2 separate regions of the Homo sapiens genome follow, and region 2 is linked to region 1. Evidence: fine-mapped expression QTL. A gene starts in region 1. The other region holds a variant in brackets. All regions are shown on one strand. Distances are from middle to middle.

What was found. PIP is the estimated chance that this variant, and not a neighbour inherited with it, causes the effect. A credible set is the group of variants that fine-mapping cannot tell apart.
Region 2: its variant is the best candidate, but not a certain one, in a credible set for the expression of SCN4B in whole blood (TOPMed, PIP 0.71).

The regions. Positions count from the first base shown.
Region 1 is chr11:118,150,102-118,155,469 of GRCh38, forward strand. SCN4B (sodium voltage-gated channel beta subunit 4) reads right to left here and starts at 2,722. Exons shown (of 5, transcript NM_174934.4): 1 at 2,512-2,722. The coding sequence starts at 2,572. RefSeq lists an enhancer at 3,340-3,840.
Region 2 is chr11:118,074,493-118,079,860 of GRCh38, forward strand. All of the region lies in intron 1 of SMIM35 (small integral membrane protein 35), which reads right to left. TMPRSS4 (transmembrane serine protease 4) reads left to right here and starts at 2,586. Exons shown (of 13, transcript NM_019894.4): 1 at 2,586-2,813. The coding sequence starts at 2,811. RefSeq lists an enhancer at 2,441-3,036. The variant G/A (reference allele first, on the strand shown) is at 2,341.

The sequences.
Region 1 (5,368 bases):
AAACAGGGTTGTGCAATAGAGCACCCTCACAAGTGATAATTAAACACAGATCACAGCAATTAAGTAAATGGGGGAACAAGGAAGGAGTGGGCAGGACAGAGATATTACCAGTTACATGCTTAGGAAGAGATTGGAAAGCACATAAACCTCAATGGCAATAATATAGCCTTGGAAACTGCTTCTCAGTTTAAGAAAAGGGTATTTTGTTAGGTTATCAAAAATCACTTTGGTCTCAGTCTGTGAGACTGGGTTTGATACGGGGAGAGGGGAAGAGGACTCCTGGGAGTTCACTGCTCTGTACCCAGTCTCCGAAGCTGTGAAAAGAGCCGCTCTAGGCCCCTCAAGTCTTTATCCTTCCACACTCATGCCCCAGAGCCTCACTTATTCTTCAGCCCTAAGCACAATCACTATTTACCTTCCCCCTCACCAGACTTGAGTTAAGTGGGAAGCAGCGTGGTGTGACAGAGCCCAAGAAACTTAGATTCTGTCCCACTTGGCCATCAATTGGCCATGAGCCCCTAGACAAGTCACCATCCCTCTCTGGACCATGACTTCCTCATCCCTAGGAGAGTTCTGTGCTCTGCTTCCCAGAGTTGCTGCCAACTCTGATGTTCCCAGGGAACACCTCCAGTTGGCTGTCCAGTCGTCTCTGTATCTCCCCCACTGGACTGAGAAGCAAGGATGTCATCTATGTCCCAAGCTCAGACCAATGCCCCTGTGAGGGCTCAGTCAGTATTACCTGGTCAAGGGCCAAAGGGACTTTGGTTGGAGTCCCTCTGCAGACCAGAGGGGCAGGGGACAGAGCAGATGAGGCCAGTCCTGGGGCCTGCAGGTCTCCCACCTACAAGTCACTCTGCTTTCTCCTGGGCTCCCAAAGGGTAGCTCAGAAATTCATCTAAACCTATATCAATAGGCCTTAGCCCCTACCTGGTCTATACAGCTGAACAGTCCTTGGAGAAGGTGGGGCTTCCACCTGGAGCAATGTACCAAGACTGTGCCTACAATCCCCCTTACACACGTGCACACACACACACACACACACACACACACATCATTTTCAGGGCCCTCTTGGTTGCCCACAGAGGCCTGGTTCTATGAGTATTCTAACAAACAAGGGACTGGCATCCCACCACCCAGGAAGGTAAGCCAGAGGTGTGAAGTGGGGTAGTTTAATGACTGGCTGAGTTTGAATTCCTCAGTGATCCTTTACCCCTGCCATTGCCACCATGGGGACCTGGGCTGATCTGAGATGGGATGAGGGGAAGTAGCATGGAATGGCGCTGTGCCCACCCTGTGAAAAGGAGCCTCAGGCGTCACTAAGGCCCACTTCATTAAGGTCACTGTGAAACCAGCATGACATCTGTGCCAAGGTACAGGAGAAAACAAGGGTGTCTTCCATCTAGCGGTACAGAGGTAAATAAACATCCCAAGTACAAGAAATACTCTCTCCCCTCTTCACCACCAGGCACCAACCTGCTAGATCTGCACACAGTTTACATTCGCAGAAACAGTAGCCACTTCCCTTATAGGGTTCTGTCTCCCTGTTTTCAGCAGAAATACCTACACCGTGTGTCTTACCCAATGCAGGGAGCTGCCAAAAGCCAAATCTGACCAATATAAACAGGAAGAGATGCCGTTGCCAGAGATGGAGTCGGCTTACATTAAAGTCTGGCTATGATTTATGAGGAGATTACATCCTGGATGAATAAATATCATTCCCTAATCTCTTGGAGTTTGACACTCAAAACTCTCATGTGCATATTAATAGATATTAATAATGCTTCTTCCTCCGTGTCCTCTGGACATGTCTTCTCTGTCTCCATATTCACTTCAAAAATGAAGAGCCAGGAGCAGGTCAAACAGGTCTTCCCTACGGAATCTCTTTGTAGGAAGAGAGACAAGGCCGTTCCTAAAGGGCCTTGAATGATCCCGCAAGCCCCTCCAGCCCCTTCCAGCTTTCAGGTGCTGCTGTAGGGAAGGCAGTGGCTCCTGAGGGAGGTACAGGGCAGAGGAGCAAAGCAGGAAAAGGGCCCAGGAAGAAGGGGACTCCCCCACCCCCAACTGGTGCATGCCTGGTGCCTGGGAAACAAGCAAACGGCTCTGGGCCGGGATGGAAACCACCATTCCAACAGTCACACGTGCAACCCACCTGGTATCCCCTGCACTCAAGGCACGGACCCCCCTCCTCCAGCATCCTGAACCTCTGAACTCTGGAGACCCGCGCTGCAGCCCCAAGATCCAGCTCCAAATACCTGGAGCCGAAGGTGCCAAGGACAGCAAAAAAACTAATCCTGAGACTGGCGGGCTGATGGGGTAGAGAGGGACGCACACGGTCCCCAGGGAGCACAGCCTATGAACCAGGCAGGAACCAGGCAGGAAGCCGGCGGCCACCATCCTCATTCCGTGCCGCACTCCAAAGCCCACCCCATCCAAGGCATCTTCCTTCTCGAGTGTCCCCTTCTTTGGGGGTGGGGGGAGGCAAGAGAAGAGACCAAGCTGGGGCTGCCTTACCCAAAAGCCCAGTGCCCAGCCATCTCGCCGGGGCTTTGCCTCCGTCCCCAGCCCCGGGCATAGTCCTGTTCTCTCCGGAGCGCGCGGGGGTCGCGGGGATGGGATACTGGGCACAGCCGCGCTCTCCGCCCGAGGTCGGCGTTCGGCCACAAAGCTACCCCGGAGCTCTGCGCCGCCGGTCGGGGCTCGGGAAAGTTAGCGGGCAGAGAGCGAGAGGAGGGGGAGGGAGGGAGCGGAGGGGGAGGCGCGCTCGCCCGCTGCTGGGAGCCGGCTGCTGGAGCAACGGCGGGAGGGAAGGAGTAGGAGGAGCCGGAGCAGGAGCGGGAGGAAGACGGAGCGAGCGCAGCGGCGAGCGAGGCTGCGCCTCTGCTCTGGAAGCGCTCCAGCCGCAGGAGGGGCGGTGGCCGCCGCGTAGGCCGGGGAGCCCCCGCCCGCTGCGCACCCTGCCTGCCGCACCCCGCCTCGCGGTCCCGGAGCCCCGGGACCACGCCGTGCCCCCAACTCCCTCTCCAGTGGGGCTGGGCTGCTGCGGCTGGCACTGCAGGGCCGGCCTGCAGCCACCCGCATCATCCCATGCGCTGAGCTGCCAATTAGGAGCATAGTTCGGGGGGAGTAGAGGTGGAGCTTTTCGGTTGCTGGAAGACTGTTTTGCTTTGCTTGGGGGAACACGGGAAGGTTAGCGGCTCCCTCTCCCAGGACCGCCAAGGGACCGCTTTAAAGTCCGCAGCGGACGCTGCCGCAACGGGTGGGCGTGTGCGGGCTTGCCCACTGCAGCTTGCGCCTCCTCGGTGGCGTGCGACATGGCGCGCGTGCAGCCTCGGGACCCGCTCCCGCCACCTTCTGCCCCATCGCTCAGCAACTCCGGCGGTTGTTTTAGGAAGCCCGGAACAGAGCTTTCCCATTGCAAACTGCCCCGGCCCTCCCTTCCCCCACCCCCACGCCACCCCGCCCCACATTTCTCCATGGACCCCTTGGAAATCACCACGCTCCAGGTTAGGGAGCAGGTTGGTCCGCGCCTGGTCTGTGTCCTGCGCCCCATTTCACCCTCCCGCTGCACCCCTGCTTCTCATTTTTCCTACCTAGGCCGTCCCCCTCAGATGCTGCCTTTTCGCCCTCCTCCAACTCTCCTGTTTTCTTCGGAACGGCAGACTCCCTCGGCCTCCCTTTTGGGGTAGGGGTGGAGGAGTCCAGGGTGACAACCAGGTCAGAGGGCTGAGGCGAGGCTGTGAACGAGTAAGCCTTTTCCCAGACAGGCCCAAGTGAAAGAGTTTCACCTGAGCGGTGCTACTTGGGCTGGTGGTTCTGTAAATGAGTCGATCTCCTCCTCAGCACCTTTCCAACCATCCAAGACCCTCCCTGCATCACAGGCCCTCTTTACTGTCTAGGACTGGTCCGGACTGGGAAGCCCGCTCCCACTTCATGGTCTGACTTCTGCTGCAGGCACACCAACGCACCGCCTTCTTAACGAGGGGTCTCTGGGTGGACTTCGGCGTGATCACGGACCCCTTGAGGTTGCAGGCAAAGTGCTGAATGTCTGTTTGCTTTTTCAGGAGAGAGGGTCGCTGCCTTCCCTATAGTGGCACAGAGGCTCTGGCAGCGCCACCATTTATGACTGTATGGCTTTGAGCAAGTTACATGGTCTTCTGGGGGAGCCTCTGCTCCTCACCTATAAAATGGTGAATGCAATGATATTTGCCTCCTAGGCTTATTAAGAGCGATGTTACCCCTGGACCTGGGCAACAGAAGCCTCAGCCCTGATTTCTGGTTTTAAAGGCCCTCATTCTGGCCCTCCTCTGGCCATGCCCCTCACTGGAGAATGAGTCCATGGGACCAAGGGGGCAGGGCAGGTGGGGGCATGCACCTCCTCCCCTTCTAGACTGTACTCCAGGTATCAGGAACTCTGGAATTCCCTATTCCCCAGATCTGTCCTTTCAAGGGCTGGCCATATCAGGTGTGCACTCAAGGGCTAGAGCAGTGGGCAAGGGACAGCTGTATGCAGGTGATGGGGAGTGCATGTAACTTGACACACACCCTAGGCATGCACAAGAGCCCCTCTCACTACAGGACCAGAGAAGAGTGTGTACCAGAGAATGGCCTGAAAATTTCATTTTGGACATGGTTTTCCAGGTTATCATGAAGGAAAAGTAATTAAAGGCAGAGGATAAAACATCAATCTTAACACTTTGTTATCCTGATTAATATTTAGACATATGTATAATTTCCATTTGTACCTTTGCTCCAGGACTTGCAACATCAAAAGTGGACCTAGCTGTAAAGAGGGAATGAGATATTATTGCATGTAAAAGTGCTCAGCAGACAGCTAGGCACAGGATAAACACTCAGTACATTTGAACTTAAAGAGGTCTGTGGGCCCTGAGGCTAAGCCTCCCCATCTGTCTCCAGGTCCGCAGGCTTACCCTGTCCTTCCCCAGGAGGTCCTTGCACTAGATCCGCAGGGCCAGGCATACAAACTGACCACTTTATTTTTACAGCAGGGGTCATGTTTCTCAGAACCCTAGACTGAGGTGAGAGAGGAGGTGAGCCAAAGGGAAGGAAAGTGACCCCTGCCCAGAGCAGGGGGAGGAGAGGGACAGAGCTGCAGGGATATCTTTAGATCCTGGTGACAGGAAAAGATGGCCAACGTCCTCAGTGTCCTCTCCCCACCTTCCCTGCTACCTCACTGCTACCTCACCAGTTCATAGAGTTTGAAGGGTCCATAGGAAACCCTCATGCCTTAGGGATGAAGAAAGAGGCTCAGAGAGGTAGAATGTGTAACCCGAGGTCAGCTACACAGTTACTGTTAAAGTCAGCGTTAGAACCTCCCCCATTACTTGATTTCCCCAATCCACACCCCCAG
Region 2 (5,368 bases), 76 kb before region 1:
TCCCAGCACTTTGGGAAACCAGAGCGAGTGGATCGCTTGAGCTCAGGGGTTTGAGACCAGCCTTGTCAACATGGTGAAACCCTGTATCTACAAAAAATACAAAAATAAGCCAGGCATAGTGGCTCACACCTGTAATCCCAGCTACTTGGGGGACTGAGGCGGGGGAATCCCTTGAGCTCAGGAGGTGGAGGTTACAGTGAGCTGAGGCTGCACCACTGCACTCCAGCCTGGGCAACAGAGGGGGACCCTGTCTCAGAAAAAAAAAAAAAAAAAGAATGTGGGTTCTGGTCCAGCTGGTTTTCCCTGGCACCTGGGAGAGGTGGGCCTCTGTTGTCTCCAGGCCACTGTGCCTCCCTCTGTAAACCTTCACCCCCACCTGCAGGCATCACAGCCACCCTGCCCAGTCCTGCTTATGTGCCTTCTTCCCGGACCTCTCCACAAACTCCCAGACCCAAATGGGAGCAGAAGCCAGGAGGGCTGAGTCATCATCCCTCCAACCAGCCATGCCCAGCAGCCTTCATGCCCAGACAGCTGCCTCTTTCCTGGTTCATCACCTGAGCACCAGGTAAAGCAATGCAAACCTGTGGGCCAGATGTTTAGCCTGGCACATAGAGGAACCAAGACAACTGAAAACGTGGCTCCCAGTGGCCCACTGGCTTCTCACTGCCCTGCTGCTGGGGAGGTGCCTGCCTGGACCATCACGGCCCTGACCCTGAGGTCACCTGAGATCACAGGCTCTTGCCTCTGCCCAAGACTTCCAACTCTCAAGGCCACCAGCCATCAGTAAGGAAGGGCTGGGGCTGTGCTGGCTCCAGAGCCCTGCAGGCCAGCTTCAGATCTCTGCTGCTCAGAGACAAGTCCAAGGCCACACTGCATTCATCAGCTGAGATTTGGCCAATAATCCATTACACAGATCCGGTATTCCTCCTGCTCAGACATCACTGGGGTCCTCCATGGGCCATATTATCCCAAACCATGAACCTGGGGCTTTCAAACACTTGTGTTCCATTCAGCCTGTTCACAAGCCTGGCAGTGTGAACCAGTAAGAGAACCAGGTTCCAGCCCCAACTCTGCCCGAAACTACTTCATGTCCATAGGCTATAGTTTCCTCAGCTGACAAATGGGAACAAAATATTGGGGTTGTTGTTGGAGAATTAAAGGGCTGATACACAGAAGCACGTTATCAACAGAAGGACAAATACACACGTCTAACCCAGGCTGGTCTCCTGGGAGGGTCAGGTCTGAGAAATGGAAGGAGATCTGGATTCATATGGAACCAGACACTAATTCATTATGTGACTTTGGGTCATTGACTTTGCCTCTCTGGAATTTAGTTTTGTCGCCCACAGAATGGGGGAACAATGTGGACAATTATCCAAGTCTCTCCCAGCAAAATATCTGTGGCTGTAAGGTTTCACCTTGCACATCCCCTGGCCAGGGGGCAGCTCCAGCTATCAGGATGTGGCAGAACGTGAATCAGAAATGATCCTGTGGGGCTGGGTGCGGTGGCTCACGCCATAATCACAGCACTTTGGGAGGCTGAGGCAGGTGGATCAGTTGAAGCCAGGTGTTTGAGACCAGCCTGGCCAACATGGCAAAACCCCATCTCTACTAAAAATACAAATTAGCCAGGCATGGTGGCGCACAACACCTGTAATCCCAGCAGCTACTTGGGAGGCTGAGGCAGGAGAATCACTTGAACCTGGGAGGTGGAGGTTGCAGTGAGCCAAGATCGCGCCACTGCACTCCAGCCTGGGCAACAGAGACTCTGTCTCAAAATAAAATAAAATACAAAAACACAAAACTTAGCTGGGTGTGGTGGCAGGTGGCTGTAGTCCCAGCTACTCGAGAGGCTGGAGCACGAGAATTGCTTGAACCTAGGAGGCGGAGGTTGCAGTGAGCTGAGATTGCGCCCCTGCACTCCAGCCTGGGGGACAGAGAGAGACCCTGTCTTAAAAAAAGAAAAGAAAAAAAGAAAGAAAGAAAGAAGGAAATGACTCCGTGGACGAGGAGACGTGGGCTCTAGCCAGAGCACCAATAGTGATTTTCAGAATATTGAACGGCTGCTGAGGCAGGGGCAGGAAGCACTAGTACATTGGCTCTGTGCAGGACAGCTTCACTTCTGGGATCCAGGGAAAGGGGGTACATCTTACCTCCCTAAGAGAAGAAACTCCCTCCTTCTCTGTGGACTTTCCAATCCTATTGCTCCACACCTGGCAATGATCTCTTTGTACTGAGCTGCAAACCCTGTCGCCCAACCCCCAGACCACTCCAACTTCCCACAACCCCAAACCAAAGCACCCACACAGTGAGAAGTCATGCACCTAGAAGGTAGGGGGA[G/A]GGGGGGCGGAAACTTCTGGCATCACCCTCAGCCAACACCCAGTTGGGTGGAAGTCATTCAGGCGGGAAGGCTTTTGTTACGCCTTAGGTGTGTCACCTGTTCTGAGGCCGAAGGTCCCATGAATGACTTCAGGTGTTGTTCCAGCCCCTAAGATAGGTGTCAGGTTACAAGACACATAATCATTCCAGTTTGGCAACTTCACTTGTAGGGCTGTTTTAATCAAGCTGCCCAAAGTCCCCCAATCACTCCTGGAATACACAGAGAGAGGCAGCAGCTTGCTCAGCGGACAAGGATGCTGGGCGTGAGGGACCAAGGCCTGCCCTGCACTCGGGCCTCCTCCAGCCAGTGCTGACCAGGGACTTCTGACCTGCTGGCCAGCCAGGACCTGTGTGGGGAGGCCCTCCTGCTGCCTTGGGGTGACAATCTCAGCTCCAGGCTACAGGGAGACCGGGAGGATCACAGAGCCAGCATGGTGAGTGTGGGGCCCTCTGCTCCCAAGACACAGGAAGGGTGGGTCTCCCCATGTAAGGCCCTTCAAGCAGCCTGAGCATCCATCAGCTGAGAATTCTGTGACACCTTCTAGGTTAAAAAAAGAGGCCACACCCAAATCCCCTCACACCCCAGCCCGGTACACGTCTCATACCCACCTGCCTTCCTCTCTTCCTCCATTGCCATGGTCCTTGGACCAGCTCACCTAAGAAGCTGAGCACAGAGCCAGGGCTGTCCTTCCCGACTATTCTTTCCTGAATCCTGCATGTTCTTTTGCCCAATGTCTCCAGGTCTGTTGGTTAGAGGTTGGCACTATTTTTCCAAGGCAGGGGGCTGTTCTGATGCCACGGTTGCCCTCTGCCACTCCCTGGGGAAACTGATTCCTTTTCTTTTTAAAGAAAAGTGTAGACTGGGTGCAGTGGCTCACGCCTGTAGTCCCAGCACTTTGCGAGGCTGAGGCAGACAGATCTCTCGAGGTCAGGAGTTTGAGACCAGCCTGGCCAGTATGGTGAAACCCCATCCGTACTAAAAATACAAAAAATTAGCCAGGCGTGGTGGCAGGTGCCTGTAATCCCAGCTACTTGGGAGGCTGAGGCAGGAGAATCGCTTGAACTTGGGAGGCGGAGGTTGTGGTGAGCCAAGATTGTGCCATTGCACTCCAACCTGGGCAACAAGAGTGAAACTCCGTCTCAAAAAAAAAAAAAAAAAAAAAAAAAAAAAAAGAAAGAAGGAAAAGAAAACAGTGCAGAGATGCCTCCAAACAATCTAGGGTGTTTGTGGTCATCTTTTACTTGGTCTCTTTTCATGCCCTCACCCTCTCTCCTCCTCCTCTGAATACCTGGAGCGTCTTCGCTGTCTTGGGGCAAAGAGAATCAACCCTATCTTTCAAGGAGGACAGCTGAGGGCCAGGGAGGGGAAGAGATAATAACTGGGTCTGAGGAGGAACCCAGGGGTCTTCCTTCTCCAGTCCTTGGCCAAGAGGCAGCAATTGCCCAGCCACCAAAGTGAAAGGGAAGGGAAGAGAGGAAAGGAGAAGCCACTGTCCAAGGGGGAAGGGTGTGACCTGCAGGGGCCCCTCGAGTGATTGTCTCCTATTCCCAACCTGAGCACTTCCCACGACACTCTTCTGAAAATTCTGGCAAGAACAATTCTTAGTGCGGTTGTAGCTGATGATCAGAAAGGGGAAGGGGCTTCCCTTTGAGCCAGGATCAAAGCACAAGCTTCCTGCTTTCCCATCCAAGGAGGCGCCCCAAAGTTTGGCCTGTGTGCAGAGACGCTGTATCCCCTGGGGCTCCCAGGAGAGGAGAGCAGCTGTGGAGTCTACCTAGCTGTGAGCTGCTTCTGGGTGGCAGGCACTGAGGAGACCTGGGGTGTCTCTTGGGGGAGCAACAGAGAAGGGAATCATTTCTAGGGCAGGTCACTAACTGCAGAATCAGAAGGCTGAGGCCAGCTCCCTGATTAGCTGTGCTGTCTTGAGGCATTCATCTTCCCGAGACTCACCTTCTCCCCTGCCCACGGAAACGATATGACCCACAACAGCCCCACGCACATGCACCGGGTTCGCAGAGATTACACAGCTAATACATGTGAGTAGGTTCTGGAAACCATGAAGCCCCGCACAGATGTAAGGACTTAGGACTAAAGAGGAGTCTGTGCTAGGAAATGACAGCTGGGTAGTACACCCAACACAGACCCTTTGCCACCAGGGAAGGAGCTGGGCATTGCTGGAGGAGCGGGGGAGGGCAGGTGGGAACACTGGTGGAGGGGTCAGGTCAGGCCTGGGGCCCCAAAGGCAAGGCAGCAGCATGGCCAATCTCCACGGTGTGGTCAAGGAAGTTTCTAGCCCCGGAGCTAGCCATTATACTGCCTGTGCTGAATAACCCTGTCATTAAGCCTGTGCTTAATAACCCTTGACAGCCATAGCTCCCAGCCCTGAGGGGAGGATGGGATCTCCACACCCAGGCTCAGCCCTCCCTTCCCTTCCCTTCCATTCCCTACCTCCTTCCATCCCCACAGGCCCCTTTCTGTGACAGTCAGGGTCCTTTGAGCTGCTGCGTCTTAATGACAGCTCTCCCAAGAACCCATTAAGCTGGGTATTCCTAGGGAGAGCTGGAGCAGGGACTCAGGCCCAGGCAGAGGTCAGAGCCCAAGCCCTGTCCCCGAAGGAAATGTGTCCCATGCTAACTACTCCATAGCTGAGGCCTGGAGGGAAGTCAGGGACCCTGGGACTGGTTATCCTGGCCTTGACTCATTACTGTTCCGGAGACCTAAACGCACCCTGAGCCACCAGACGTGGGTGTTAACACCTGAGGTCAACCCCCTGACGCTTCCGGCTGCTCTGGAGGAAGCTGGTCCTCCCTCCCACCTCCTGTTTTCCGTGCCAGCCTGGTACAGAGTCAAGGGGCTTGGCTGGGCTTGGCTGGGCTCAGAAACGTGGCAGTCAGGAGCCAGCCTGCGGGCAGCGGGGTGCTGGGAGCACTGCAGGGTCCACCCTGACTGGGGCACAGAATCCAGAAGCCCACTCGGCCCTGGCAGTGC